Regions from separate parts of the Homo sapiens genome. Here all the other regions are linked to region 1. Evidence: fine-mapped expression QTL. A gene starts in region 1. Each other region holds a variant in brackets. All regions are shown on one strand. Distances are from middle to middle.

What was found.
Region 2: its variant is fine-mapped to the expression of OR6N1 in whole blood (TOPMed, PIP above 0.99).
Region 3: its variant is fine-mapped to the expression of OR6N1 in whole blood (INTERVAL, PIP above 0.99). The same link has a PIP of 0.9 or more in neutrophils.

What each region holds. Positions count from the first base shown.
Region 1 is chr1:158,766,707-158,777,627 of GRCh38, forward strand. OR6N1 (olfactory receptor family 6 subfamily N member 1) reads right to left here and starts at 5,489. Exons shown (of 2, transcript NM_001005185.2): 1 at 5,315-5,489. It overlaps OR6N2 (olfactory receptor family 6 subfamily N member 2), which reads right to left. Exons shown (of 2, transcript NM_001005278.2): 2 at 7,516-10,921. The coding sequence ends at 9,976.
Region 2 is chr1:158,741,889-158,752,809 of GRCh38, forward strand. It overlaps the pseudogene OR6K5P. Among named protein-coding and RNA genes, the nearest start is that of OR6K6, 7.4 kb to the right of the region's middle. The variant C/G (reference allele first, on the strand shown) is at 5,931.
Region 3 is chr1:158,796,731-158,807,651 of GRCh38, forward strand. It overlaps a transcript of OR6N1 not described here. Among named protein-coding and RNA genes, the nearest start is that of OR6N2, 21 kb to the left of the region's middle. The variant T/C (reference allele first, on the strand shown) is at 5,228.

The DNA.
Region 1 (10,921 bases):
GTGAAGTGTGGAAGGATAGGAAAGAAAGTTGAACTATAGGGTTCTAACAAGAAGGCAACCCTCAAATTACTATTGCCCTCCCTTCTCTCACCTCCAGAGTAAAGCCCTCTAAGTAAATGCTTTGAGAGGTCAACATTTCAATTCCATCCCTCCCTGCCCTTCCTGTCAACAGCCTCCTTCAGACTATTCACCTTTATGTTTAGTCTTCCCTGATTAACACAGCTCATTTTTGGCCTTCCTAATCCATCCTGTAACCCAGTTGACTTTCTCAATAGAATCTATATAGATTTTAGAAATTTAGGTATTTCTAATCCAAGGTATATATTAACATTTATACATATTGTTCATCTAAGGTAAAAATCATCATTTATACTGATAATATATTGATACCGTACTGGACCAAATATATATAATTTGAATATTATTTTCTAATTTCTCATTTTAATTTGTTTTCTTCTTCAACTTTCTGGCTACCAAAGAATCAATTGTTTTCCCTTCTGCTCCCTCCTATTCCTTTATGAGAACTCAGGTCTGCTAGCATCTTTCAGGGGCATGTAGGTCAGAATTTAGACCTCTTTTGGACACTGGTGAGAGCTCCAGTCAAAAATAAGAAGGTTAGAGTAAATAAAAAAGCCAAAGAAAGACAGGAGGCAAATCTATCTTTCTGCATTTCAACTTCAGACTGTGGCCACTTCATCAGTTCTTCCTGCCATTTCCCCCTCTATCAACTTCAAATGCTCTTTTCTGGTTTATTGCTTCTGTAGATATTAAATATACATGCTCTACTGTGTTGAGGTCAATGTAACAATAATTGATTATTTTCAGTACTCTGGGCATTATACTTAGAACAGGGACTAAACAAATAAAATGTGGCACCTGATGTTAACAAACTAATATTGTAATACAGAGTATAGAGAAACAACTAACTATTATACAGCTCTTTCATGGAATACTCTATCAATGTAAAAACATGCTATTATTCTCATCTACTAAACAAACAAAAAAGCAAGAGCCTTAAATTCTTTCTCTTTACTCATCCCACAGCCACTGCTCTATTTCTTTCTATGTCCCTAAAAGAAAACTCTTCCAAGAGTCGGCTATACGCATTGCCTTTAATGCCTCTCTTTAAGTTTCTTCTTAAACCCACTCTAATTAGATTTATACTACCACCACTCCATTAAAACCTCCTTTCTCATAGACATTAATTATCTAAGATTTCCTGGATCCAATGGTCATTTCTCATTCCTCAGCTTACTTGGACTATCTGTTTCTTGACAGTATTGATTTATCCAGCCTGTTCACACACTTCCTTGACTTGATTCTCGGGGTACTATACTTTTGGTTACTTTCTATCTTATTAGTCATTCCTTCTCATTCTCCAACTTTAGTTTCTCCTCCATGCCCCATCCTTTTAATGTCACAGTGCCCATGGTCAGTGTTTAATCTTTTTTTTTTCTCTTCTATATAAACTCAACTCCTCTGCTCTATACCATCCAATACCAGAGCTTTAAACACTATAAATGTGTTGAAGACATCTAAATCCATATCTCAGGCGATATTTTTCTCTGCTACTCCAGACTCATATATTTCACTGCCTACTCACATCTCCTCTTGGGAGTCGAAGAGCCATCTCAAACTGAACTCCTGGGGTCTCTACCCCTAGTCTTCCCCATCACAAATGATGGCAATTGCAATCTTTCAACTGACAAGCTAAACTCCTGCAGTCATCCTTGTTTCTATCTTTCTCTCATATATCCAGGAACTGACTATGTTTGACCACCTCGGTCCAAGTCACTTTTATCTCTCCCCTCTTACTGTAATTGACTCCTAACAGATCTCCCTACTTGCATTTGTTCACTTGTAGCCTCATCTCAACACACCAGAGTGATCCTGTTAAATTCTAAATTAGGTTCTGCGTTTCCATCGATCAAATGTGTTCAGTGACATATCATTTAAAACCTTTGCTGTAGCTCTTTCCTTGTTCTAGAATCTCTTTCACCATTTGGATAGCTCTTTCATTTATTTCATCTTTGCTCAAATTTCACCAGCTCAACTACCTGGGCCACCCTATATAACTGCAGTGTGCCTCCATCCTTACATCCATATTCTGTACTGCTATTGCCTTTCTCTACTTAATTTTTAACTTTTTTTCCAGAGGACTTGTCATGTTCTAACCTGTAAAATGTACTTATTTCTTATTCCTATTGTTTATTGGTTCTCTCCTCTTTGATTATAAGTTCCTTAAGGGCAAAGATTTTTTTCTTTTCTATTTTGTTTACTGGTGTATGTCAAGTGCCTAGAGCCATGTCTGAAATATAGTTACAACTCAATAAATATTTATGTAATTAATATGCAAATCTATTAAGATAACTGCTAATTTGCATATGCAGTAGGAGTTACAAGCCATGGGCTGGATATGGAGATAAATCAGGAAAATTTCATAGAACACATAATTTATTATTATTATTATTATTGGAGACAGCATCTCACTCTATCACCCAGCCTGGAGTGCAGTGGCAGGATCTCTGCTCACTGTAGCCTTGACCTCCTGGGCTCAAGCAATCCTCCCACCTCCACCCCACAAGTAGCTGGGACTACAAACGTGCACCACCACGCCTGGCTAATTTTTGTGTTTTTGGTAGAGATGGGGTTTAGCCATATTGCCCAGGCTGGTCTTGAACTCCTGGGCTCAAGTGATCCACCTGCTTTGGCCTCTAAAAGTGCTGGGATTACAGGCATAAGTCACCATGCTTTGCCAGAAGATATAATTTTTATTTGAAGTGAAGAAACTGTCAGAATTTTTTAGATGGAAAAATGAAATAAAAAGTATTTGAAGCAAATGGAACTGCCTGTGCAAAGGCAGAGAGTTATGAAAGACACCGAGTCTTCTCCTTCTGCCCTCCGGTCTTCTTATCACTTCTTCCCTCTCCAGGATCCTGAAATTCATCCAAACTAACTTTGTTTACTCTGATTTTTCTTGGCATTTTTCTAAACCTAGGGAGCATGTCCATCCCATATACAAAAGCCTTTCTCAATCCAAGACTTAATATAGGATGTTTCTCTACTTAGATTCCAGAGAACTACTTCCGGGCCAAACTTTTATATGGGTGATTTTGCTTCAGAATAATTACTTTATTATCCAAAATTTCTTTGTCTTAGTTTTTCTCACCGCATATCCATGTCTATCCACTGCCCAATTCTGCCTTCTGTTTTCTTCAAGTCTTGAATGCATACCTGCCTTCTATAAAGGATTATCCCTAAATTTCTACTTCTTCTCAGACCCTTGTTTTCTAGATGTTCTATATTCCTTCCCTTCTAAATATAAATAAAAGGTTCTATTCTAGAGCTGCCTCTTTCCTTTTCTGGCCTCCAGTCCCACTCACAGATGAGTTGTCTAGACTGTGAGCCCTTAACTAAATTTTCAGATCTACATGGATGGCTGGTCAGAAGATTGAATATGAGAAGCCAGTATTTTGTCGTCTCCTTTCTCAGAAGGTAGAGTTTCCACATAACTCCAAAGACTTATTATCACACTATACATTGTATCATCACTCATTAATGACCTGCTGTTGTTCACTCCCTCCATACTCTGCCTAAGCAATCAAAGTCATCAGGATCCGATCAAGTATTATTATTTTCCACGGAAAACTAGCACCCCCAACTCCCTCATCTTCCAAGTTCACAGTTCTCAGAGGTTTGGACCATTTCCTTCTCTTTTTCACACCCCCTTTAAGATGGCAAAAAATACTGATGATTTTCCCTTTTTAAAAAATTTATTTTATTATTTCTAATTATGATTGTAACTGCTAGTACTGATAAACCTTAATTTAGTGTTGAGAGAAGCTTTAGGAACTATCACTTTCCAGTGGCCCCCATAATTTTGGATTTCACTGGATTGTTGGAATATCTGAAATGTATTATATATTTCCAACAGCTCATAAAAAGAAAAAACCTTTAAATATCACAAAAAGGAAGGCTAAAATAGAAGGATAAATCATGTGTATCAAACTTCATATTTGTACTTATGTTTCTAATTTTGATTCAGCCCAGCAAAAACTCATATCTTCTCACTCATAAAGGAATCCATATCGCCACAAATGGGCATCAACCCTCTGCCTGGATTTACAGCACTGGAAGCTTCCTGACCCATAAGACAGTTCTCTCCATTTTTGAAATGTTTTAGTTTACAACTGTCCTTTCCAATGACCAGAAACCTGGCTTTCACCATTATTCTTTGTTTTGCTCTGTGAAACAACCCTATTGCTCTGGTCCAGAGTCATGTGTTCAAACATTCTTTTCATCACCATTATAGCAATTTCAATGTTTGCCAAGTGGGTTTCTGTATTTAGCCCAGACTCCTTTGTTTGCAGTGTACCCTCACTAAAAATATGCTTTATCTTTTGTCAATCTGAAGACACTTGAATCATTTTCTAGCTCAAGTCTGTCATTTTTTTCCCTGACCATCTAAGTTAAATACTGTTCTTTCACACTTCTAAATTCTCAGTAGTACTTTCTCACTGTCCCTCCAATTATATCCTGTAATGCACTGCAATTATTTTCCAGGCATATGTCTTATCACTCCAAGGCAACTCTCTGTGAGCTTTTTGAAATTAATGAGGAAACTTCATACCATGTCCTACCTCCTAGAGTACTTAGCACAATGCCTGATATATCCGAGTTATGGTGGGTAATGAAAAAGAGGGCAATTGAGATGACTTGTGCAGCTCTTTAGCTCATCAGTTACTCATCTACTCCTATTCCTGATATTGGAATCAGGGCTCTCATAAAACCTACCACATATACAAATTTACATTTATCTTACTTAGGTCCATTGAAATCATAGTTTATTCCCCTAATTCTAGAAAGCTTTTAGAATATATGCCTTGCATTCTTTTCTTCAGATACCACAGCTGCATTATTCATAGTTCATAATTGTTTAGGCATAGGGCCAAAGATCTGGGGGTAAGAAGGGAGATGCAATTTTAGAGATTATCACACTCAACGTCTTCATTTAAAAAACGAAACAAACAAACAAACAACAAAAACTGGGATCCAGAAAGGGGAGAAGACTTGTTCCAGTTTACACAGTTAGTTAAAAATATAGCCAATTTACTAATTTTGAAGCCAGACTCTTCACTATAGCATTTGAAAAGCAGAATATCTGTTTTTAAAAATAGTTTCTGTGTTTCAATTATGTGTTTTATGGACCCTGATTATTCAAAAACCTCTCCATATTTCTGAATCCTCTAGGTCTCTTAGTGATCAGACTAAGAAGGAATGTGAAGATGAAAATGCCTGCTTGATAAAGTCTTACCTAGAGATTGTTGGTGGGGAGTGCTCTGCTAGAGCTTGACTCTGGAAGCCCAGCCACTGCTCGGAGTCCGAAGTTTGAAGAGAACTTCCTGTATACTTCCTATGTCTCATTTGCAGTATTATACCCAGCCATTCCCGGGGCCTGGAGGGGTTGAAGTTTATCACTTTGATGGAACCTGTGGGAATAAGTTAAACCATAAAACAAATTCTTCTCCCATAAAACCTGGATTCTTGATAGGGACCTCATAGAGGCAGAAGCCCATGGGCCTTCTGAGCAGACCTCCTGGGGTCACTAAAGTGCTCTCTCAGGAAGGGAACTGACATACAGCAAGTTCATTAGCCAGTAGTCCTTCATTACCTATTAGTTACTACAACAATAACTACCAGTCCAAGTTGAGATAGAACATGTCTCAAGGCAATTACTTCCTTTAGTAAATAACAATAACTGGTGTGAAAACTAGGTTCAAATGGGTTCCTGTACTGCATGACTTGGGAGTAAGCATACAACTTTCAATTATGATAGGATCTTTATAAAATTTGACTGACCTTCTTTGACCCTGAAAGGGTGAGGACAGGGAGACACTGGGGACATAAATATCATCAAGACCGACTCCTAATCTTGTCTGTTGCTCATATTTATAGCCGTTATATGTTGTCTTACACACTGCAGTCTCCTCTCTACTCTAGTGTTATCTGCTCCGTAAAGAGTGCTGCTTCAGAATCTTGGATACAATCCCAGCCATTCTTCCAAATACTTATGAGACATTAGGCACCTCACTGAGCCATGGTTGGCAATATTGCCAGAAGGGTGGATTTTGAATACTCTTGCCACAAAATAAAAATGATAAGTACTATATGTGAGGTGATAAATATGTTAATTAGCCTAATTTGATCATTCTACTCTGCATACATGTATCAAAACATCACATATATAATTATTTGTCAGATAAAAAATTTAAAAAGTATAAGGAAGATTTACTTTCCTCAGATAAAATTAATAATCAAATGTGATAATGTAAAAAAAAGTACTTACAAACTATAATATGAACTATGAGAAGAATTAAATAATTTTTGTCACTTTCTCCATCCCACCCACACTTTCAATATTCTTCATCAAAGTTTATATTTTTCTATCTCCTAATTTATTTCTGGAAGATTTTTTTTTTTCAAACTGAGTTGCCAGTATTTAATATTTTGTTTGTGGTAAATAGATATTTAACTAATAACTTAATTTTTGAGTCAAAGTATTATTTTGTTTTTTGACTAGTATACGTAGAGTTTAAGTAATAATTTTATTTACTTAATGACTAGAGGTTTATTCAGGTTTTCTAAATCCCTATAAGGCAATTAAGAGTTAAATACCCACTACCTTTTAAATTAAATTTTCCACATCTGTCAGTTTCATTTCAATTACTTCTTTTCTGTGAACTAGAATATCCTCTATTCCTAAAATATATCCATCAATTCTGCTACCCTCCCCTCCAAATGATATTCTGTCTCTATATGTGTTGGGGTAAATGTTTAACAACTGACTCCTCTAACAAAGATTCTCAATTTCATTGAACTCTAGTTCTCTTTTTGACTAAACCTCAGCCTTGGCTTACAAAATCTATAGACTGTCAGCAAAAATGATTTCATCCACCCTCCCCATCTTCCCTCCCCCACCACATGTATTAAAAGACTTAAACAAACACTAACATAGTTTCTAAGAACTCAAGGCCATAGTCTATCCTAGCACCTCTTTAAGTGCCTGCCTGAGAAAATTCAAGGCTACCAAAATAATTTATGTCTATGTGTGTGTATGTGTGTGTGTTTTTGTGTGTGTATATATATTTGTATATTTGTATATTACTGATTAAATCTGTCCTTACCACTTTAGTGCCTGCATTGTTTAGCTTTGAGATAGCCTGCCATTTTTAAAAAGCTCCTGATTTATAACATTTGCTGATTGGCATAGTGCTAATACTCCCACTGTATCTGATTCCAAGCTATTGGTTCCACAGAATTTCTAATAAGTTGTCAATCATTTCCCAAAAACTATGAGCAGACTTCAGCACGTAACTGCCTGTCTTTTTTATGGTATCACATTTCTTGAAACTGCAGCTCCATTGACTTCCTCAGTACTCACTAACCTCTCTCCCTCTTGCAATGTCTTTTACCGCCACTGTTTACAGAAAATGACTGTATATAGCAAAAATAGTAGCAATGTACTGTGTGTTTATTTTACAAAAATATATGATAAAATAGTGCGGATGACAGCAGGGAGGATTTGGAGAAAAGGACATACATATATATGCAAAGGTTCTCTACCTAGTTCATGAACCTGCTGAGATAAAACACACAACAAATCAAGAAAAGCAGATTTGTTACTCATAGACATGCAGCAATGAGAAACAGAAGCCTGGGGTTCATCACAAGCCCATTCCCACAGCTCAGGAAAGCTGCCCAGGCTGAATGAACTCTCACTACACATGCCCCACATTGTACCACAGCGGAGGGACCCAAAAAGCACTAGTCTTTGGAAAACAGTTAGACAGCTAATTATAAACATACATTTATCGTGTGACCTAGCAATCCTATACTTATGCATTTTCCCAAATGACATGAAAATTTATGTTTACGCATAACCATATCATGTTAAAAATGAATATTATCTAGGGATAGCTTACATGCCCACCAAAGTTTGTGAGTGAAAAAAAAAAATACAGATCCAGAAAATTAACCTAGTATGATGCACAGTAGCTAAGCAAGGACTAGTTACCAGTATTATCCAAGGAAATTCAAAAGGCAGATGTGAGACAAGTTGAGGTGGGATGTGCAGAAAACTGGTGAGTACAAATAGGGAAGACCGATGCATTCTATAGAACAGTGGGTTTCAGTAATGATTAGAATCATTATGTCATTGTTAAAGGCCAAATATATTATTGACCAGGTGTGGGTAAAATTCATCACATGTTTCATTCATTACGATTGCATTGAATACTCATCCTATTTAGGTGCTGTGTTAGTTTCTGGACACACAACAAATAAAAAATCTGAAATAATTTGAGACCAAATCTAGTTTATAGATACTTGTAGGAAAGAATGACAAACTATATCTATGTATATATACATAAATGTCCACAAACACATAAATTGCCATACATATTTTGAAGAGAAGCAAAACATACTTCAGAGATAAAAATGAGTGACATAAATTAGACTGAGTGTTCAGAAGTCCTCTCAAAGCTAGCATCACTGGAAATTGATATTTGAACAGAAAATCACACAATTAGGAGGAGTGAACCAAATGAAATGTTGGGGAAAAAACGGAGTGAAGATCCTGAAGCCAGAAAAATCCATAATGTATTTGAAGACCTGAAAGAGTAATCATGTAGCTAGGAAAGAGGGAGCTGAGGGAGTAGAGGTATGAATCTATGTTGAAGAGGAAGGCAGGGAAGAATTCCGTTTATAGCCTTATAAAGTATGGTGAGGCTTTGAATTTTATCTTAAGGGCAATTGAGAATTTCTCATGTTTTTATAAAATGGTATATACAATTCAGATTTCAAATACATTACTTTATATTTTATGTGGAAAATATATTAGAATAGAATGAGAGTAGGAGAAAGGAGCATGGGTAGAATATTATTACATTAATCCAATTGAGAGATGTTGGTAATTTACACCAGGGTAGAAACACTAAAGAGTATAAGAAATAAATTGATTTAAGAATATATTTTGTGAAAAGATTGTTGGCATACATTAATAATTGATTGGAATTATGGTTGTAAGAAAAGGAAGCAAAATAGAATATTTAAAATTTTCTAGAAGAAACACAAGGAAACAAAAGCATCAAGCTTTCATGGTTAGAAATTTTAAGAAATCAATTTTGACATGTTAAGTTTTAAATTATTGACAAGTCCAATCCAGGCAGTGTTGATAAGTAGGAAGTTGAATATATAAATCTAAATCTCAGAGAAAAATTGTGGTTTGGAGATAAAAATTTAAGAGGCCTTGTGATAGAGATCATATTTAAATCCATAAGAATAACTCCGAGTATCTAGGGAGATAGCACGGCAGGACAACGAAGACTGGGAAAGACTCACAAGAAAGATAAGAAAATTGGGAGGTAATGATGTCATGAGAGTTAGGGAGAGTTAAGGAGTAAAAAGTTAGGAGAATTGAGGCATAAAAACTGGTCATGTGTGTCAAGAGTTCAGGAGAGAGGAAGGAAAAGAAGTTTCTCATGGATTTGGCAGCATTGAGGTCAATAATGGCCTTCACAAAATATTAGTTGGAAGGTCTGAGCCAAAATAAGATTGGAATGGGTTGAGAAGTGGATATGAAGTAAAGAAGAGGAAATATGGTGTGTTGAGAAGTTTGATTGGAAAAAGGAACAGAGAAATCGATCTCTAGCTGGATGGAAATGTGTGGACCTAGGAAATATACATGCTTTTTTTTAAAAAAAGAAGTATGTAGATACTAAAATATTCTTAAATGCTGACATAAGTGATCGAGTAAAAAATAGAAATAAAGATGTAGAAAATGAGAAAATCATAAAGAAATGAAGTCTTTGAAGAGGTGAAAGGAAATGAAATTCAGAGCATGTGTGATGATGGGAAGATTACTCAAGGAACTTTTATGAATTGAACATTGAGGTGAGAAAGGACATGGGAAGAAAGTCAAAGATGAGCAAGACTAGCTTTATCTCCCTTCTGGAAGATGGTCCTCTTGATAGCTTTAATGATTTCCTTGTTACGAAGACTGTAGATAATTGGATTGACCATTGGTGTTAGTACGGAGTAAACTATAGCAAGTGTTCGGTCAAGGGTCAGGGAATAGCTCTTCTTTAGCCGCACATACATGAAGATGATGCTCCCAAAGAAGATGAGGACCACAGCAAGATGTGAGGCACAGGTAGAAAAGGCCTTCTTTCTTCCTGATGCTGTTTTTATCTTCAGCACAGCCCCAATGATCCTTGCATAAGAAATCATGATAAAGAAGAAAGTGATAAGAATTATGAAAGCATTAATGGCAAAGTCCACCAGAATGTTAGCAGATGTGTCCTTGCAGGCCAAGCTCAGCAAAGGTGGAAAGTCACAGAAAATGTGTTGGATTTCATTGTAAGCACAAAATGGGAGCTGGGAGGCAAGGATGACCTCAGAAATGGGACACAGGAAGCCACAAGTCCAACAAGCAGCAGCCATCTTGGCACAGAGTGTGGTGGTCATAATTATAGGGTAGTGGAGGGGCCGACAAATGGCCAGGTATCTATCATAGGCCATGGCTGTAAGAAGGTAGCATTCAGACGCTCCCAAGGAGTGGAAGAAGTAGGTCTGAAGGAGGCATCCTGCAAAAGAAATGGTTTTCTTCTCACTGAGAATATTAGACAACATCTTAGGGATAGTGGTAGCTGTATACCACAACTCCAAGAAGGAAAGAACACTGACAAAGTGGTACATAGGTGTGTGCAGAGCTGCATCCAGTCGGATGACTGAGAAGATGAGCATGTTACCACAGATGGTGAACAGGTATGCCAATAGCAGCAGGACAAAAAGCCAGCCCCTGACATAGCCCACACTGGCAAAGCCAAGGAACACAAATTCAGCCAGGCTTGAATGGTTGTAT
Region 2 (10,921 bases), 25 kb before region 1:
CATTTATAAATCATACTTATAGTCTTAGAAAAACAAGACCTATAAATTAAAATGATAGACACAAAACTTAGTACTGTTGTTATTCATATTAAAAATCATTAAAGAGATACTTCACTTTGAAAATACATGCCAAAATGTCTTTAAATAATTTCGTTAAAAAAAGAAAAAGTGCGTGGTAATTTTAAAAAACTGATTTGTTAGCATTTTAAACTTAAGGAGATGATGAGATTTCTTTGAAGAGGTGTGTGTGAACTCCATTAGCTCCCAGAGGCATTGAACATCTTTTGAGAACAGAGGATTTTCTTGGTGGCGTTTTTCATATCTTTGTTCCTCAGACTATAGATTACTGGGTTGAAAAGTAGGGCAAGGGCCGGGCGCGGTGGCTCACGCCTGTAATCCCAGCACTTTGGGAGGCCGAGGCGGGCGGATCACGAGGTCAGGAGATCGAGACCATCCCGGCTAAAACGGTGAAACCCCGTCTCTACTAAAAATACAAAAAATTAGCCGGGCGTAGTGGCGCGCGCCTGTAGTCCCAGCTACTTGGGAGGCTGAGGCAGGAGAATGGCGTGAACCCGGGAGGCGGAGCTTGCAGTGAGCCGAGATCCCGCCACTGCACTCCAGCCTGGGCGACAGAGCGAGACTCCGTCTCAAAAAAAAAAAAAAAAAAAAAAAAAGGAAAAGTAGGGCAAGGACAGCAAACATCAGTGCAATGGCCTTGTCCAGTAATGGTGGGAATGTGACAGAGAAGCGCAGATACATGAGTGACACACTGCCAAAAAACAGCAAGAAAATAGCAATGTGGGCTGCACATGTGGAGAAAGCCTTCTGACGGCTCTCACCAGAGGGAATCCTCAGGATCACCGTGATGATTCTTAAATAGAAAAGGGTGATGACAGAGACAGAGGTCAGAATGGAAATAGCACGGATCACATCTTCAACCAGAATTATTTACGTATCTGTGCAGGCCAACTGCAGCACAGGTTCAAAGTCACAAAAGAGTTGATGAATTTGGTTGGCGCCACAGAATGGAAGAGTGGAAATGCACACAATCTCTGGCAGTAACATGAGGAAGCCAAAAATGCAAGAGCCAGTGGAGAGCTGGATGCACAGTCAAGGGGACATAGTGATTGCATAGCGAAGGGGGTTGCAGATGGCTACACACCTGTCAATGGCCATCACTGTGAGGACTAGGGCTTCTGTGACCCCGAGTGAGTGGAAGAAGTACATCTGCAGGAGGCAACCTATGAAAGAGATGGTTTTCTGTTCACTGAGAAGGTTGGAGAGCATCTTGGGGATAGTCACGGTGGTGTACCAAATCTCCAGGAAGGAGAAGACACTGATAAAACTGTACATAGGATTATGGAGATGGGGGTCCGGTTGGACAGCAAAGAAAATCATGAAATTTCCAACAAGAATGAATATATAAATAAAGAGCATAGGAATGAAGAATAAGAGGCTGCCATTCTTAGATTGAGGAAAATCAGAGAAATAAAACTCAGTCACCATTGTCTGATTCTCTGGATCCATATTTTCAGCGGTTTCACTTGTTGGCTCATAAAACACAGTCAACATTCTAAGTACATGCAAAGAACAAATAAAAACCTTCTTTTCAAGCAACTAAACAGCCTTGAAATTAGGCTGGTTAAATAAAATATACTATGTGAGTCATTTTGCAACATATAAAGTTATCCTGTCAAATTTAGTAATTATAATAACTTATGTTGTCAATTATTCTGTTGGATAAGCTAACAGTATTGCTAGTTAGACATATAAATTGGTACAAACTCCCCTGAATGGCAATTTGGCAATTTATATTGAGAGTTTAAGACTGTTTAGAGTTTAAGCCTTTCACTATGTAGTCTAGGGGAAATATTTCAGATATTAAAAAAGAAATATATGACAATATTAGCTAGAACATTTATTATAACAGTAAATTAGGAACAATTTAAGTAAGTAGACATTTTCATTTTTTTGAGATGAAGTGTTGGGGACACAGAAGAATGGGTCATGACAAAATGATACCCTCTGTGGATAAGAATAAACTCATTTTTAAGTGCGCATGTTTGAAACTAAAGTATGATTAGCAGCTTCCCTTAGTCTGACTCATTATTAACAATTGAATGAAAAGAAAAAATCCAAACATTCCACCAAATATTATTTACTTTAAGACACAAGAGGCTAATCTCATGTGACATATATGGGTATACAAATTAATCTAATCTACACTCTAAAGGGGGTGTATTAGGGTTCTCTAGAGGGACGGAACTAATAGGAGATATATATATAGTTAAAGGGAAGCTTATTAAATATTAACTCACACTATTACAAGGTCCCACAATAGGCTGTCTGCAAGCTGAGGAGCAAGCAAAGCCAGTTCGAGTCCCAAAACTGAAGAACTTGGAGTCTGATGTTTGAGGGCAGGAAGGGTCCAGCAAAGGAGAAAGATGTAGGCTAGGAGCCCAGGTTAGTCTAGTCTTCTCATGTTTTTCTGCCTACTTTATATTCTAGCCACGTTGGCAGCTGATTAGATGGTGCCCACCCAGATTAAGGGTGAGTCTGCCTTTCCCAGCACGCTGACTCAAAAGTTAATCTCCTTTGGCAACATCCTCACAGACACACCCAGGATCAATACTTTGCATCCTTCAATCCAATCAAGTTGACACTCAGTATTAACTATCACAGGGAGTTAGTTAATAGTTGAAGTGAGCTAATCTAGAAATTACATTCTAGGTGTAATTTGCAACATTTGAAATACTTTAATCAATAGTCTACCTCAAGAGGCAGTTTTGACAAGGGCTTCAAATATTCTTATCTGTATCCACACTGTAGAGTTTATTAAATAATGTAAAGCAGGTTTTGTCAATTTCAGCATTATTGACATTTTGAAACAGACAATTCATTGCTCAGAGAGAAGGCAAGGCTGTTCGTGCATTATAGAATGTCTAGCAGCCACCCCTGGTCTCACCTATAAGGTGTCAGTAGCATAGACCCCTCCCTCGTCATGACTACCAAAATCATCCTAGAAATCACCAAATGTCCCTGCAGGGAAGAAGTAGAAGAAAATTTGTGCCAGTTAAGAACCACTGGCATACAGAAATTTTTTTTAATGAAAAACCAGGTGATCAAGATACGTTGATTGGCTGAAAGTATTCCTAACCTCTGGCTTGCAGGGATATAAAACAGGATGAGCTAGGCAGCCTATAGAGCTTGGAGAGGTGCAATAGGCACATGATCCATTCATTCCTGTGTTCCCTCCTTAAAAGGGTATTTATCACCTAATCTCACTAGAAAGTTAGCTTTTCTACTGCAGAGAATTTTATTACATTTTATCTTTGATAGAAACCTTCATTTATTATACTAACCAGAAAGCATAAGGAAAAAGAGTTGAGACTTCCATGAGCTTCCAAGAAAAGGCCTAATAGTAGTATGTTTTTGCCTGTTTGCTAATAAACGTTTGTTTGCATGGCAGAATTCTGACTCTTCACTTGGTACTGAGGTGAAGATGGGACCTCTAAATGGAGAAAGCTACTGATATCTACCAAAAAAGTCAGACAACTCTGAACTGCCAATGGATACAATAAATAGATAAAATTATTTGGAAACCGTAATGCCGGAGGCTATACACAAGTAAGAACCCAGCTTGGCATATGGCAACCACAATTTTTTTTCTCTTGCTTTTTATACATACAGCAAAATAGTAAGTCTATGTTGAAACAGGAAAATATGAGGTGAAAATTCCCTTGTTTTTCTTTAAGAAAACTTTTACATAAGAAATGGAGGCTCATAAAAAATAATTTATACTCTAGCAATTTTTACCTTAATTACTCTTATCTGGGCTTATTGTTTCCAGACTTGTCTTACTACATCTCACTTTCACATAGCTACTGAAATAATCTTTCCTAAATGCAAAGCTGTCAATCCTCTGTCTGAAAACCTTATACTGGCTCTCTGTAGGGTTCCAAATCAAACCTGAGCCTTTAAGCAGAACAGATAATATGGCTGTATATGAGATTGTAAAATTATTTTGTCATCCCAATATCTTATGACTGTATTATCCCCAACAGGCTTTCCTAGTATGATAGAAAATGATACCCGTGTAATTGTTCTGTGTTCTGCTTACAGAGGCAGTAGGGAGACAAACAGGGAAAGAAGCATTAAGCTCTATGTCCAGTACCGTTTGGAATTAGAAAATTGAAATCTGGAAATTTTTGTTAAAAAGGTAGGTCTTTAGGAACTTGAGTCTTTAAGAAGGAAAGAGGATGCCTATAGGAAGGCAATTTGATATAGAGTCTTGGGAGCAAAGTTATACCTAATAGGACTCTCCTATTTTCTGTAGGAATGGATACCCCAGAATCTCAACCAGAAGCTCCACTAGTTGTCCTGACATTCCTTTATTCTTAAGAGCCTGTCCTGATGCCACTAAATACAATACAAACCTAGATTAGAATTTAGCTCAGAAAATAGTAGAGTTGTGAAAGAGTCATAGAGCTAGTGGGCCAGACACAATTTGACAGATTTAGTCCAGGTGTTTGTTATCTTACGGCAATCTCTAATTGTAGGACAAACACTCACCAAAGCCCTCCATCCCTAAGTTATGGTCCTTTCCTCTACCTCATGTGTTGTCACAATCTCAACAAAATTTCCACAAGTCCTTCTTTAAAGTCCAATAGGAAATAATATGGTTCTGTGAAAATTGTCCCCCAATATCTAGTAAACAAAGTCATTCACTCATATCTCAAAGTAGAAAGTCCACCCATCAGTCCATAGCTACCTCTTCCAGAAACCAACAGAGCCACCTCCTCTTTTCCAAATGTCTCCATCTTCATTGCTCTGCAGCCCAATAAGTAGGAAGGTTGTAACCACAGCCACACCTCTAAGCATCACAGGGAATTGCTAAGTGGGAGAAAGGCTTTCTTCTAAAGGGCTCTTTCCTGGGGGGCTTAGGGAAAAGCAACTCTATGCCCCATGAGACTAATTAGGAAAACACTTGCTGACACACTCCCCTTTCATGAGGTCAACACACCTATGGGAAGCTAGGTTTTTCAGTCAGGCTAGAAATCAGATGAAAAGAGTACTTGGCTTTCCATTCTGTCCAAGGGGTAAAAGAATAGTTTAAATTACAAAATCTGCTGAGAAAGGGAAAGGATAAGGAACAAAAGGAATGAAACTAACGCAATGTGGTTCAAAGGCAGGAGAATTTTCTCTACTCTTTGGAGCAGTTTAGTGATCACACAGCACAACCCTGAAGTGTATTGCAGAAGATTCAGCCAGCTGCCATCCAGCACAGCTTAGTAGAATTTCTTCAGAAGGATCCAGGGATCACAGGGCCATTTGCAGTAGTGGCAGTAATGAGGGGGCTCTCATGAGATTTCATGGGTTTCAGGGGTTCCAGCAGCAGATATCCCAAGTGTATGGAGTCAGGAAAGGATTGAAGGGCAACCTTTCCTGCTACATGAAAGCTGTATTGATGAGCACACATGAGCTAGACCTTGGACAGACCTGAGGAAAAAAAAAAAAAGGGCCCTCATATAGAGGACAGGAAATAGAAGCAGAAGGATACTTTTCTAATTCTTTTTTTCCTACTTTTTAAAAACTGAAATTGGACTTAATATTAACCTCCAGGTGGGTAAAGGCAGAAGAAATAGACATATACAACACATAAGATTTTTTTCTTCTATCACAAAAAGAGATATAAAACAATCACGAAGTGTTAAATGTTTAGTGGAACAGTAGCAGTGGATATAGAAATGCAACAGAATTTGAAAGCATATTTGAAATTAGAAAAAAAAAACTTATGAGACACAGGCATATATGGTGCGAAAAATGAGTCAGAGCAGAGGTGACTTTCGACTCTGAATGATTAGATTTTTAATAGGCGATTTTTAAGGCAGATCCTTGAGTGGAGGCAGGGGGACTGATTGAGGCCATGA[C/G]TTCGAGGCTGCAGTGCACCGTGATCGCCCCTGTAAGCAGCCACTGCACTTCAACCGGAGCAATAGAGTGAGATTCTGTCTCTAAAAAATAAAAATAAAAAACAATAACAATAAATAAAGACAGTCCCTCAATAAGCATTCGATTAAGGAATATGTAGCTAAATAAACGAATAATTAAATGAATCGGCGAATAGCTAAAGAATCAGATAGTGACTCAAAGATAGTCTAATTTGTAGCCACACTGATGTTTACTTTTTGACCCTGATTTTATCCAGTCTTACCACTTAAGATAAATTCCTCCTCTTACGCTTTGAACCTATTTATCTCATCTCATGCAGAGACACTGTTCCTTCAGTTGTCTCACTTACCTATGTATCCTCCAAATTTTCCTCTTTTTAGTCTGCTTATATAGCTTATGAATATGCTCAAACATATTAAAGTATATACTCTTTCTCATTTTCATTGTTGCTCTAAGTCTGCCATACTGCCTTTCTTCTTCCCGATCTTATTTTCCTAAAAGCATAGTTTACTCTTTTATCAGTATTTCTGTCTCCACCTTTTCACTTCTTGTTCACATGAACCTACAACCCCACTTAAGAGATAGAATATTATGAATAACTTTGAAGACCACTACACTTTCCTCCCCAATCCAGTTCTTTATTGCCATATTACATATTACCATTCACCTGAATTTTGTGTTTATTATTCTATTTAGCACATGTGTGCACACTCAAAAACAATATACTGTTTAGTTCTGTTTTACTCTATGTAAATAGAATGGTATTTTAGGCATTACTTTATAATTTGCTTATTCACTCAACATATGTTTTGAGAATCATTCACATCAATGTATCTAGCTGCAACTTTAAAAGAAAATCCCTGCTGTCTTGTATAAATGGAGCACAATTTAATCATTCATTAGCCTTCAACGTTTTGTATTCTGGAATATTTGCATCTTCAACTTCACTAGATGCTGCCAAATTGTTTTTCAGAATCTGTCTACCACCAACAATAAATGCATTTTTATTGTTGCACATCTTTTCTAATGTTCTGGGTGGTCATATTTTTGCTACTCAGTTGTTGTGTAAACAATATGCTATTGCTTTGATTTGCAGTTGAATGTTGTATGTGTGTATGTGTGAGTGTGTGTGTGTGTGTGTGTGTACTCCTCATTTGGTTGTTTATCTTTTTCTTATTACTTTGTAGAAGCTTTTTGTATATTCTAAATAAAAATAATCAGTTATAAACGTTATTACAAATACAGACTCCTAGTGTATATCTTGTTGTTTTTCTTTTTAATGATGCTATTTGATGAAACGAACTATTAAATAGTTTTATTCATCAGTCTTTAAATTTATGGTTTATATTTATATGGAATTGAAAAATTTTAACTAAAGTTCCAATACAATTGATTAAACAATGCACCTTTTTCCACAGACCTGTTGTGCTGGCTATGTTCATCTTTTCCCCAGTGGTCTGCTATACCTACTCTCACGTATGTTAAAATCCCATACTATATTAGTCTATTTCTTTGCTTCCATTGGCTGTTTACTCCCACTGCTATTTTATTACAAATATTGCTTCATAATAACTTTTACTAAATAGACAAGTGGCACCATTTTAATCTCCTCCTTTGAAATGTCTTCTTCTTGGCCCTCATTCTTACATATCCCACTCCTCTCTACTCAAAATGAGATTTTGATTGAAATTGGGTTGAAATGATTGACTTGTAGATGATTGGCATGTTTATGTAACTGAGACATTCTATTCATTCATACAGCATATGGATCAATTTATTTATGTTTTTGATATAGTCCAATACAGTTTTATAAAGTGCTATGTTTAGATGTAACATATCTTTTACAGTTTTTTATTTTTGTTGATACTTCAAATGGCATCTTTTTATTACACTTTTTGTCAACTGTTACATATAATAATGCAATGTTAAATATATCCATTTGTATCTATGCACTTGCTGAACTTTGTGTTATAATTTGTCTTTATTTTCATTTGGAAATTTTATATCATCTTTAACTAATTTCATTCTTTCTTCTTTATGGTCTTAATGCTGTGTGTTTCTTTTTCTTATTTTCAAAGTTTTACTTTTTATGATGGACACCCATTTTTAAATATATATCTCTTTATATAGGTATATATACATACCTATGTATATAATTTTTAATGGAGATTAAGATATATTATATAATATATTTAAATTTTATTTGCTGAGTGTTACAAATAATAATAGAAAAATCATGCTGCTGTAAAGACACATGCACACGTATGTTTACTGCAGCACTATTCACAATAGCAAAGACTTGCAACCAAGCCAAATGTCCAACAATGATAGACTGGATTAAGAAAATGTGGCACATATACACCATGGAATACTATGCAGCCATAAAAAATGATGACGTTGTGCACATGTACCCTAAAACTTAAAGTATATAAAAAAAAAAGAAAAAGCTAGTCGAATTCCCTATTTCACCCAGTGATTGTTTCTTTGTTCCTGTAATTCTCTCATTTGATTTCTGCAATACATCATTGCCTTGATTCTCTCTTCGTTTCCTGAACTCTTCAGGATAAGACAATAAGATAGACCTAGGTTCAAATTCTTACTCTGCCACCTGCTTAGCTACCTGACTACAGAGAAAATACATGGTCATTAAACTTTAGTTTTCTCATCTGTTAAGTGGAAATAATAATGACTAATTTACAGAACTATGAAAGGATAAAATGAGATGAAATATAAAAATGCCCTAGCAGATTTTGTCACATATTTAATAAATGAAAGTTATTTACTATTAATACCATTTTTCTCTCACCTACCTATTGTAATCCTCCAGTCTCTTCTCATATTCCCTAAATTCTTTTTCAATTATCTAGTGCATTCTCATAGTTCAATTATAATCTCTACTTAAATAACAGACATCTGTGTCCACAGATGTGTCCAAGAAGAGACTTGTCATCTCTTCTGAAATCCAATTCTTCATCATTAATGGCAAATAGACATTTCTACTTAAAAGTTCTCTCACATTTTCAAGATAAAATATCTATAACTCATCTTCTTATAATTGCCCCTACAAGCTTTTGCTTTAGCTGGTCCTATATCTGTCGATAGTGCCATCTAACAGACGAACTCAACCTTATGAATCTGTTACCTTTAATGTTCCTTTTACCATCATAGCACAAATATAATCAGGTGTCGGGTCCTATTGATTCTTTATTCACAATTACTCCCATCTCTTCTGTCCTTTAATTCCATTATTACAGTTCTATTTTAGGCCTTTACTCCAGATTATTGCAGAATAGGCTCTGATGTCTGATAGGTACTCAGTAAATGTGAGTTGAATAAATAATACTTCCTACTTCCATAATTTCTCTACTTAAATGCATTCTACATATCATCAACGCAATTTTGTGCATTAATTCCAACTCAAAAATTATCTCATAACTTTCCGTTATGTGAAAAATATGCTTTCAAAATCCCAATGTCTGACATTCAAAGACCTCCACACTCTGCCAAACCCTACCTTCCAGTTCTGTCTCTTCCCTATTACATTCCACATGCCATATGATTGAAGCCAGGCGTATGTGCTAAATAATCTATAAACATGGATCTTGTATTATCACCTCAAAATCCTAGTTGATCGTCTTCTATTAAACATACACTACCTGAGTTTAGGTAAGTCTTAGGGCTATGCATTAAAGGTTAAAATATAAATTAATATTGATAGATAATCATCAAATTTCTTAGAATCTAGACTTATAACTAGATAATTTTAACAACAGGTGTAGGCACTAGATGCTTTACAAGCACAAAAAAGAGACTCCCTGGCCGGGGATGGTGGCTCACGTCTGTAATCCCAGCACTTTGGGAGGCCGAGGCAGGCAGATCACCTGAGGTTAGGAGTTCAAGACCGGCCTGGACAATGTGATAAAACCCCGTCTCTACTAAAAATCCAAAAATTAGCTGGGCACTGTAAGTTCCCGCTCTGGTCTGAGGGACTGGTACCCCAGCCCCCAGTTTTCAGGCCCTCCCTGGCTTGAATGTGGGACCTTACCAGGGACCTGCCCCCTTCTGCCCAGGAATCTGTCTGCTTCTGTTGCCATTCATGGCCCCCAGGCTGTAGGTGTGAAGGGGGGCCTGCATGCCAGCTCTGAGATGCCCTCTGTGCCCCCTGGGCTTCCCTCCTATGCTTCTTGGTGCCCAAAGTCTGGAGAGGGAGAAGGCATCAAGGGGCTGGTGTATCAGCACTGCTTGTAGCATGTGCATACCTGGACAGACTACAATAGGACTGGGTCTCAGCCCTTACTTTGCTCCTAGATTGGAGTGGACATTGACAGCAGGGAGAAGCCAGGCAGCAGGAGCAGGCACTTTCAAACCTGCAAGAGAAGGGGGACCTTCCCAGGACCCCAGGAGCGCAGAGGTGCCTGGGTCCGCAGCCGTGGTTTGGGTGGCTACACTTGCATGGAGGAGTGGGAGGCCATGATCCACAGTCATGACTTGGGTGGCTGTAGCCCGAACCTCCTGGGTGGGGCTTCTGCCAGTTCCATGGAGCAGGTGGCCCAGATCTACAGCCTGGGTTTGGGTGGCTGCAGCTGCGCCTGGAGGATGGGGCTCTCACCTTCTCCTTGGCCCCAAGAGCACAAGGATGCCTGGGTCTGCAACAGTGGCTTGCAGCGACACCCTGGGGTGCTCCCACCCCAACTCGGAAGGCGCAGGGCTCCCCCTTGTCCCTGGTTCCTGCCCTGGCCACACTGCTACCGTCAATACTGGCAATATATTCCTAAGTCAGGGAATATATACTTGAGACTAATCAGTAGAGATATAATTGAAAGGTAATGCTAGTGTTTAACTAGATTTGAATTCAGAGGATTAAGGTTCAGTTTCTTCCATGCCTTGTATTGCCTGTGTGTACTGGAGAAAGCTTTTGGCTTCTCTGAGCCTCCACATCTGCAAAATGCGAATCACTGTAGTCTTGCTTACC
Region 3 (10,921 bases), 30 kb after region 1:
TGCTTTGTCAATTTGGGGAGCTCATGATTTTCTGTTTGTGTATGTACATTTGTCTTTAAATTGAAAAATTATTTATTCCAGTCTCCTTTATCTGATATATTTTTGTTTTTATTGGATATGTTTGCTTAGCGTTTTCTTTACAACTTACCTTTTTTTTTTTTTTGTAGGTCACTGCCTCCTTTTCAGCACTAAGTGGCAACTAAGTCCAGGTTTACCTCTGTTTTAGCAGGTGTTCAGAGTGCTGCCTGTCCAGGATGGGGGAGGTCCCAAAGGGGATAATGCAGCAGAATGGGAAAGCTGTCTAGGATTTTGTGCCCAAGAGACTAACAGAACATACCTCCTACAGTGAGGTTCTACTGAACACTCTAATTTGGCAACTCCTTCAGCCAAGATACAGAGAGTTTCCCAGGCTGGGGATGCTGCTAGCCCCACCTGCCCCCTTTGTCTCTGTCATTCTTCAGGAATTTTTCTCCATTCAAGTACTTGTGCACCTTTCTGTGTGTTGAGGCAGGAACAGGTCTCCTGCCAGGAAACCCAAGATGTTGAGAAAGCTGGCTGTCCATCTTGAACTTACCTTTTCCAATGTAGTAACTGTGAATCAGGGGAAATTTCCCAAATGCCTGGTTCATGACAAATCGGGGGGAAAGCGTTATACTTATAAAAATCCGATTCTATCACCCTCTGCACAGCGTTTTTACTTCTCTGCAACCCCAGAAACTATCTCATCCTTCTATTTGGGTTCTGGGATATTGCTAGTGATAATTTCTGCACTGTATGTGTATATTTTGTTGTTTGTTTTTTATTTTCTATGAGATCGAGGGTAGTGGAGCCAGGTTGCTTCTACTCTATCATTTTGGTGACCTAAGTCATATTTTTTCTGTACAATATTAAATAAAAGTAATATTGGTAATTAATCTTGTTTTGTTCTTAACTGGGATTATTGAATTTAGCTTAGGAATATTTGGAGGAAGACTTTTGCATATATGTTAATGAATGATATTATCATCTATTTTTTCACATTACTAGTTTTATTTATTTTGGAATCACTGTTAGGCTATCTTTGTAAAATGCACTGTTGAGCTGCATTGCCAGTGTTTTAATTCTCAGAAGAATGTAAAAATAGGAACTATGTTTTTCGTCAATATTAGATAGAACTCACTTATTAAGCAAGCTGCCACTGATGTTTTCTTTCTAGTGATTTTTTAACTTCTAATTTAATATCATTTAGATTTTATATTAATTCTGATGTTGATATTTCTAATTTATAATTTTTTAGAAATGAATCCAGCCAATTTAAAATTTTAATTAACTGGCATATATTATTAGTAATATGTTATTATAACTTTAAACTTTGATGCATCTGTAATTCTGCCAATTGTTCATTCTTAATCTTTCTTATTTTTGCCCCTCTCTCTCCTTTATTTTTTATTAGTCTTGTCAGGAGTTTATTTTTATTTTTAGGAACCAACATTTTTATTAGTATATCATTTTTGTCATATATTTATTTTTATTGTATTAATTTCTGCTCCCAGATTTTTTCTTACACTTTCTTTTTTTGCCCTAACATTATTTTTCTAATTTTTAAACTTGAATGCTTAGTTAATTAATTTTATACTTTTTAAATAATATTAAATTTAAGGCTATAAACTTCTAAAAAGCACTTTTTCCCAAATATTTTGAAATTATACTTTTTGTTATTGTTCAGATATAGATGTTTTCTACTTTTCCTATGATACTTCTGAGAGTAAGTTGTATGGAAGTATTTTCTTTAAATATCAAACATATGGACATGTGAAATTTATCATTTATTTATTTCTAATTTATTTATATCACTAGTAGAAGCAGAGGTCTATATTATATTAATATTATTAATTCTATTAACTGTATTGACACTTGTTTTATGGCCAAGCATTTGTTTAATTCCACTGTGCTTGAAATCAATCTTTATTCCATGTGCCTCCAGTAGGTGGACCTTGTTAATTATTCTACAAATAATTTATATATATACTTATGATTTATTTGCCTGGTGTTTTTATTCCTAAGGGGAGAGATTTCAAATGTCTTACTCTGATAGTGGGCGTGTTAATTTTCCTTACAGTGCTTTTACGTGATTACTGTGCAGCATGGAAAGCCACAGACCTCCTTCCACTGCATGGCAGAAAGCAGAGCAGAACACACAAACCGGGCAGGCTGGCTCCCTGGGAGAAGAGCACAGGAAAGAACTGTGCTACATATGCCCAGTTCCCCCTTCCAGTCCCACCAATTGGAGTAGACGGCTGGTTCTCAGACTTTAACTTGCATGCATAACATCCTGAAGTTATTAAAACACCAATTACTAGACCCCACTTTCAAAGTATCTAATTTAGTTGATCTGAAATAGACCTTCTCATTAAAATAAAAATCTTTTTCTATTGCTAAAGTTTTTACCTGAGAAGATTCCAGGTGACTTGATCCCCATTTATCTCACACCTAGTCAATGTTTGGAGAAAGCTTAAAAAGACTGTATGATTTGTTCACCACGTTAGCCAAAGAAATGACGAACGTACCCATAAAATATTGGCATTACGTTTAGACCTTAATAAACATAGACAAAAAATACCTTCCCAATAATTACTCTGCAGGCTCATATAAATCGTGTTTAAAAGGATTTTCTCTCTCTAGCCTACGTTTAAGTAGAAGGTCATTCAAGTGAAAGGTCATATGTAGGCTGACTTGTGGGATCATATATGTTCTAAAAACCCACAGTTGTCAGGGATGGTAAGGAGGGTGAAAACTCAGTCAACATGATTAGATCCTCTTGGTTTTTAAATGAAAGTTAAATCTTTTGGATTAAGTTTAGAATCTACCTACTAACTAATGTTGAAAAGACATTTATCTATTTACCTTCTGTGGGAGATTTAATGAGAAAATAGACAAAGGACATCCAACTATAAATCGTATGTTTGTGTAGTCAGGGATCCTTGTATAATCAAGGATCACAAAATTAAGCGACATCATGGGATGGTTTGTGTAGTATGAAACCCAAACTTACTTCTGGAAAGGAAAATTGAGACTGCAGGAGTCTGAGAGAAGAAAGGGTGGCTGGACAAGACTTGTGAACCTCCACAGCCAGCCATGTTGTCTACAGATATGAGTTACTCTATGGGAAGATAGGGCCCTAGAAGAAGTCTATGACTCATTGTATCTGCTTTCCCGCCTACATGTGTTGCATGGTGCTTGGTGCCAGAGGCTTTCTACTTCAGATAAAATGGAAAAAAAAAAGAAGCCAAAAGGTATACTGGAAAGCGTTAGAAAACGTTGGTGCTATCCCATTCTCAGTCTGTTTCTAAGTTGCCATGTAACCTTAATTAATTAAGTTATTCCCTACCTCTTGATTTCAGTTTTATGTTTTTGTAAAGACAGAGGGGTTTAGACCAGATGACTTCTTAAGCACCGTTTAAATCAGAAGTTCAATGATTCTCAGTGACTTCCTGGTGGAATTCACCTAGCTGCAAATGGTGTTTGCTCAAAGCAAGTCTTCAAAAGTTGTCTTGGCTTACCCCAACAGTTGAACCTATCTACCCCATACCACAAAGGAAAAGTTGCTTTTACCTAGGAAAGAAAAAAAAAATCAAGGATTTGATTTCTACTATTTTGCTGTTGTTGTTTTTCTCCACAACATTAATTTTCAAGGTTTGACAATATTAAAATTGGTTTGCCTTTATTTAGGATCCACCAAATGTCAGAAAAGAGAATATAGTCCGTATCTGAGCTGGATGCTCAGAGAAAATTTACCTGAGGGTATATTGCCATAGAAAAACCTCAAATTGGACAACTTATCCACATTTAATAGGTGGGGACCCCAGAACATTCTGTGATCTTAGTCAAATTTACTAAATTGAGAGGGAGATAATGCTGCTGTATGCTACTCCACACACATTGTTCTCTACACATATCTTTTCTCTTAAAATAAGCTAAAATAAATACAAAGTCATCCCTGCATTTGGAAAGAAAGCATTTCAACATCATTTTTCAAAAACAGGAAACCCAAAACTTACGCTATCACTAAAAAGAAATTTTAAAAGGTTGTCCAGAGAGTTTTTATTTCAAAAATAAGTTTTCTTTTTGTATCTTCAATAAGCTATGGCTATGTTATCCTCAGACAGGGAATCTCCTAGTAGGATCCTACAGTTCCACGCTTGGTCTTCAGAGAACCTTCAGAGAAGTAGCAACTGGGTGCCCAGTTAGCATTCTAAAGTCTAAGGCATGAGAAGAGATCACAATACACTTCTACACTTCCATGAGACTTTCTTTTGTTTTGCTCATTCACTTCTCACCAATCCATGCACTCCTTCCCACCACTTTTCATGACCTCCCATCATCACAAAAGTACATAGAACAAAATGAAAAAAAGTCTGTTTCTTGGTGTTAGTCAGTATGTTGCTGCACATACTGGTGTGTGTGTGTGTGTGTGTGTGTGTGTGGTCTGTCTGTGTGTGTATGTGAAGAAGAGAAAAAGGTGGGGGTGGCGGTGGGGAGAGAGAGAGTGGGTTGGCTCCTTAAAACAAAATTGTTAAATGCCGGGGTTTTTTTCCCACCCACCTTGCCAGAAAACAGGAGAGACAGAAAAGTATCCATCTAGTCCCTAAAGAAATGTCCCATCTGTCAAAGTCAGAACTGCAGGGTTACATGAAGAATCAATGAACAGACAAAGTACATTTTAAAGAAGGATTCCTAAGGGAGACATGCATCAGGAATTCTCAAAGGGAATGAGGAGAGAGAGGAATTGGTAAGCTAAGGCCCCTATATTGTTGGTCTAGAAGGGCTGTAGCGCAACAGAAAAAGCATTCTATTTCTAAATTGACTTTGTAAACTTGTTTTGCCACTAACTCAAAATGAACATTGGGCTTAACCATTTCTCCTTTCTTTACTTCAACTTCCCCTTCTCTATATAAATGTTGTATAAAGCCCCTCACCACCCTGGTAGTCTGTGGATCTCTAAAGCCATTGAAAAATGTTTCTAGGGTGGATATGGAGTTGGGTGGTCTATATCAATGTCCCTGGAGTTTTCTTTCCATATTCTAATAGTCCTTATCTGGGAAAGATCAAAGCCTTTACCTAGTTCTCTTTTTTAGATACTCTAATCTTTTCTGTACCACCCCTGCCCATTACCTGATGGTTTTGATGACATTAGAATTTACAACATCCTCCTCTGCATCTTTTCTACCCCAAGACACTCCCCTACTTA[T/C]ATTTCATGTTCCTGGAAATGCTGACCTCCCAGGGGCTCCTTGCTATATGTTCTCTGGAGTTGCTAAGTGTGTAAAGTTTTTTGTAAGTGCTCCTCTGGGGTAGGAAGTTGGACACAGAGAAGTAAAGCAGCCCTACTCTCTTTCAAATGGCTTTTCTGCAACCCTCACTGGCTCTAGAATCCAATCCCAGGGACACTGCCTCTTCTGGGACTCTAGAAGTTCTGCAAGTCCCTCATAGCACTTTTTTTTTTTTTTTTTTTTTTTTTTGAAACGGAGTCTTGCTCTGTCACCCAGGCTGGAGTGCAGTGGAGCGATCTCGGCTCACTGCAACCTCTGCCTTCCAGGTTCAAGCGATTCTCCTGCCTCAGCCTCCCAAGTAGCTGGGACAACAGGCATGTGCCACCACACCCAGCTAATTTTTTGTATTTTTTAGTAGAGACAGGGTTTCACCATTTTAGCCAAGATGGTCTCGCTCTCCTGACCTCGTGATCCACCCGCCTTGGCCTCCCCGTCATAGCTTTTCATGAGAAGAGACAATCCAACTTGAATACATGAAGAATCACATCTTTAGCACCCCAGAGGTGAGTTTCATCTTAAAAGCTTTTTTTGCAAGGAGATTTCTCATCCATCCCTACTAACCTCACCACATCACCATATTATCACAGCACAGGCACCACTATCACTTTTGCGCTTACCATCTCTACCTTTGTTACTCTCACCACTGTCCCTCCCTTTGCCATGTCAGCTATCTTTAGCCATTGTTCCAAATGATTGATGTTGAATACCTAATACACTTGTCTAAGTCTCCATCACCAGTATTATTACCATTACTTACATTATCACTACCATTATTATTACCCAGGCATCTTCATGAGACTAATCTACTTTTTCATTATTACTTTTACTTATATCCATATCCTCAATATGTTCATCAACATCCTAATCTTGACATCTGAACTCTTATCTCAGCTGTGTGTTCTCTGTGGGCATGTACTTAGATGGATATGGAGTCCAGATGAATAATGGAATTACAGCATTTATCTATCAGAAGTAAGGTATTTGAATCATTCATAGCCCCAAATGTACTTTTATTTTTCAGAATCAGGTGGAAAGAAAGCAGTTGCTATATTAAATTTAAGATACGGAGGTAACCATAAAAAGATTAACAAGTAAATCATATTAAACGGAAGAAAAATACTAAGTGTTCTGAGTTCAAATTGGAAAAGCTTTCCTGTAGGAGACGGAAAGTTTCTGAGCCAAAGGAAAGGAAGATATTTGTTTCTGAGAGTACTAATGTGACTTTGGGATTGAAAGAGTCTCTCAAATTTTTGGACAATATGAGGGTCTCATTCAACCTTAATCAGCATTTAGCTTATGTCCCACTTACTCTGAAATACCTAACCTTTCACAAAGATGGATAGTTGAAACTATCCTTCACTAAATTACTGCATCTCCCACAGTCTCAAGCACCAACAGATCTTTTGTTTTCATTTTTATTTCATGGATATATAGATTAGCCATCTATCCCAATTCTTCAAATGAATAATTGTGCTGTACTCAAAGTGGCCACTTTAATACTCATTTTTATTCCTCCCTATATCACATCACATTGGTGTTCCTACGTTCCTCTTTTCCTCTTGTGAGCCAGACTCTGAGACAGACTTTCTGCATCATTTGTATTGTCTAACTGTATACCTGTATGGCTTGGCATTGACTGAATAAATTACAATGCCCATGCATGATCCCTCAGAAGGCTATCAACATGACAAATACCTGAGCATAAGAATTGTAAACATTACCTAGAATCAGTTAGTGTAGATATGCGTACTAAACAATCAAGGCTTCCAAGTTTAGTTCTTGCCTAGTCAAGAACATTGTTTCTTCTCTTTTATGTCACCACTTGTCAGTAAAGAGTGCTTACTTGGCATTTATTCTGTATCAGAAATAGAGTGAGGGAAAATGACAAGTTCTGGTATTACTGTGCAATGGGTTCACTGTCCCATGAGCTTAGAAGCCAATACTGTGACACCAGTTTTTAAGAAAGAAGAAGCCTTATTTCAAGGTTGACCAGCAATGAGGCAGGAGGCAATGTTCAAATCTGTCTCCCCTAACTGAGGTCTGGGGACAGGTTTTATAGGCAGAGAGCAATTAAGAGGGAGATAGGAAAATGCAACAAAGCGTTATCTGATTGGTTCCTGAGAAGAGATTATGCCAGGTCCTTGACTTTTAGGATTGTGCTGCAACAAAACAGGTCTCCTTTCCTTTTTAATTTGATCACCATCCTTTGGTCTGAATACTTAGGTTCTGCATGTGGTTTACTTTTTTGTTCTGGTTGGCTCCAGGGTCACAAATCTGGCACACTTGGTTCATCTGGGCACACTTGGGTTACATACAACCTGAGGGTCCATTGCAACTAAAAAACAAGTCATCATTTTGTTGTATTTTGTTATTGACAAAGTTAAACCAGATTGAACTGGTTCTGTGGTTACACTGATATCTTCATCAAGCAATTCATTATTTGAGGAGAAAGGTGAGATCTAAAATTATTTGTTAAAAGCTTAAGTGATAAAAGTAGTATTCAGCATGTTCAAATTTTCATAGTATCATTGCTACTATTTGGAAAAACAGCATATGCTTACTAAAATTTAGAAATAAATAGAGAAATAATTTTTGAAGTAATGGGATTATAAGTAATTTAAATTTTTATTTACCTAAACATTTAATGTCCTATATTTATATGTAATACATTATTTTTAAAATGTGCTGTAAATGTTAGGAAAAAAATGATATGAAATGCAACTAACATAATGTGAGAAATAGGGAAATTCACAATAATTCATTTATCTATTTATTTAATACATTTTTGAAACAGCTTTTATGTCCCAGACTTTATTCTAGGAACTGGAGAAAATGGGATGCGTATAACACTGTTGCTTCCCTTAAGATATTTATTATATAGAGTGGGAGGAGACAGATCCTCAAATCACCTGATTATTTTTTAAAATATAAGTTTTTTAAACATGTAAGAAAAAATTTCAACTTCACACATAAGATGAATTTTTGAACCTTTTAGAGATATTATTTATTGAAGCAAATAAACTTTTAAAACAACTATGTAAATGAAGTGATACATCAAGGTCACATGCCCTTGTTTGCCCAGTACAACTGTGGTTTATATCTGTTGTCACTGGATACATTGATAGTATTTCATTTTGTTCTCTGATGTACTTGAGTTTGAATGTCCTGTATGACAGAATGTCAGCCTTGATGCTAGTACCAAGTGAATGGTCTGATTATGCTGCCTTTCAGACGTGACTGCTTCTTACTGTCTATGTTGCTAGAGTCAATATCCAATTGTCACCATGGGAGAAGTGGCCAAAAGTTGGACCTCACCTTGGGCACTTACCCCAATATGTCACACTAAGGCACTACTTCTCAAACTTTTATTTTCATATCATAGCGCTTATAAAAGTGATGGTATCTGTAGGACACACTGAGGTGAACAGAAAGGCCACTTACTGCTTGAGGCAACCAGTCCAAGGACTTCAATTCCCTTAGGTCCTATCTGACCATTCATAGGGTGTGTGTTAGGGGCAAGGACTCAGTAACTCAGCACATCTGTTATTTATATCTGTTGAGAAGCTCTGCGCTAAAGATGACCTGAACTTTATGTTCTAAAGGAAATACCCAAGGAGGTCTCAAGAGAAAAAAAAGAATATAGAATAGAGTACAGAATGAAAGGCAAGGGGAGTTTGCAGCTATAAATGGATCTTAAAAAAATACCTTCTGGTGGAGTTTCAAGAGGGGAACTCAATCTCTATCACACCCATTTGACTCTTAAGAGTTTGTTCATTCATTCATTTGTTCAAATATGAGTGGATACCATGCATTGTAGTACAAATTAATAGTGAGATATAAGCCACTTTGAGTTGTTAGATGACTGCTTATGTCTTCACTACAGGATGGTAAGTCCCCCATGTTCACTGCACAGTATGCACCCCACAGATATTAGTAATTATCAAGAATTGCTATAACAGTTTTAGTAATTATTATTACTATAATTACCTATTAATTAATGTGATCTAAGCCATTTCAATTTAAGCCATCTTCTAGTGCTGCCACCACAGGGAAAAAAGAGTTTCTGTTGGGCCCATAATAGTTCCTGCAAAAAGAGTAGTCTGAGTGAAGTGAGGTGCAGAAGGAGAGAAAGAAAAGGAGCCCAAAAGCAGTAGACTCAGACTGTCAGCAGAATAGAGTTTTGCACCATGTATTTGGGAAACAGCATAGACTTCTTGAAAGCAGGGACTACTCAGTTTATGACAAGATAAATTTGGACCCTTAGGTCAAAAGAAGATGCCTCATTTGGAGAGTTACCAAGTCTATTGTAATAACAATGTGAGATAGCTGTAAAACTAAGCATTATCAAAGAAATAAATCCCCACTGAAGACATTTATGTGGAAAACTCTGAAGTAACAATGATTAATATTTACATGCTTAACGTTCTTTTATTGTCCCCATTTTGCATGTAAGGGAACTGAGGTGGAGGGAATTTAAGTGTATTGCATATGATCACACAGCAAATAAATGATAGAATTGACTTTTGAACACAGGCAGAGAGCCTTCAAAGACCGTGGTGTAAGCACTATACTGTCCTGATTCTGGTATGCTGAGACTAACTTGCTTATGAAATACTTAGTATGTGTTATTTAACTTTAGAACACTTTGATGTAGTTTTTTTTTTAAAGGAAAACAAATCTGGCATTAGAGAGAGCTTATGTTTTTTGCCCAAAATCATAGAGGCAAAAATGGCAACACCTGAATTTGTACCAACACCTTTCCATCTCTGCTCTGCAAATTCAGATCTTACACATCTGGACCTAGTTCAGGTCCTGCTTTCCTTAAGAAGTGCTATAGGTGCCTGTAATCCCAGCTACTTGGGAGGCTGAGGCAGGAGAATGGCTTGAACTCGGGAGGCAGTGGTTGCAGTGAGCTGAGATCGCGCCATTGCACTCCAGCCTGGGGGACAAGAGCAAGACGTCATCTCAAAAAAAAAAAAAAAAAAAAAAGTACTGTAAGCATAGAATCAAAACTCCCTAAGCTGAGAGGAATGTGAGCACTCATTCATTGCCAGCCTTTCATTTTACAGACAGAGAGAATGAGGCTGAGGAGGGTAACTCAGTCAGCTGAAGTGGATTTAGGGTTGAATCTGTCTGTCTTTACTGCAAGTTCAATAATCTTTATAATTTTATTACGTAAATATTGGGATGTTCTTCCTTCTTCAGAGGGATATTATAAAGATTAAATTTTTAAAAACATGAAGGCAGCTGTAACTATTTCTGGCATAGTACAGACATACATAAAATAAAGCAGTAAGATCTGTAGGAATGAGGAAAATGGAAAGTATTCAAGATTAGGCAATACTTAGTCTCTTCCAAGATCTGGTCCTATTTTCTCACTAATTTATCTGACCATACTCTAGCAGGTACTTGGCCCCCAGTTCAGACACCATCAAGGAATGGGAGATTACTCTGCTCAGCAGAGGAAGCAATAGAGGAGCTGGAGAGAAAAGAAGCGTGATCAGAACTGCAGGTTTTTTCTCCATCAAACTACATTTGGTCACATAATAACCCAGAATCCCTGGATGCCACAAATAGATAAGCATTCTGCTCATGGTGCGCTGATCTACATCTGC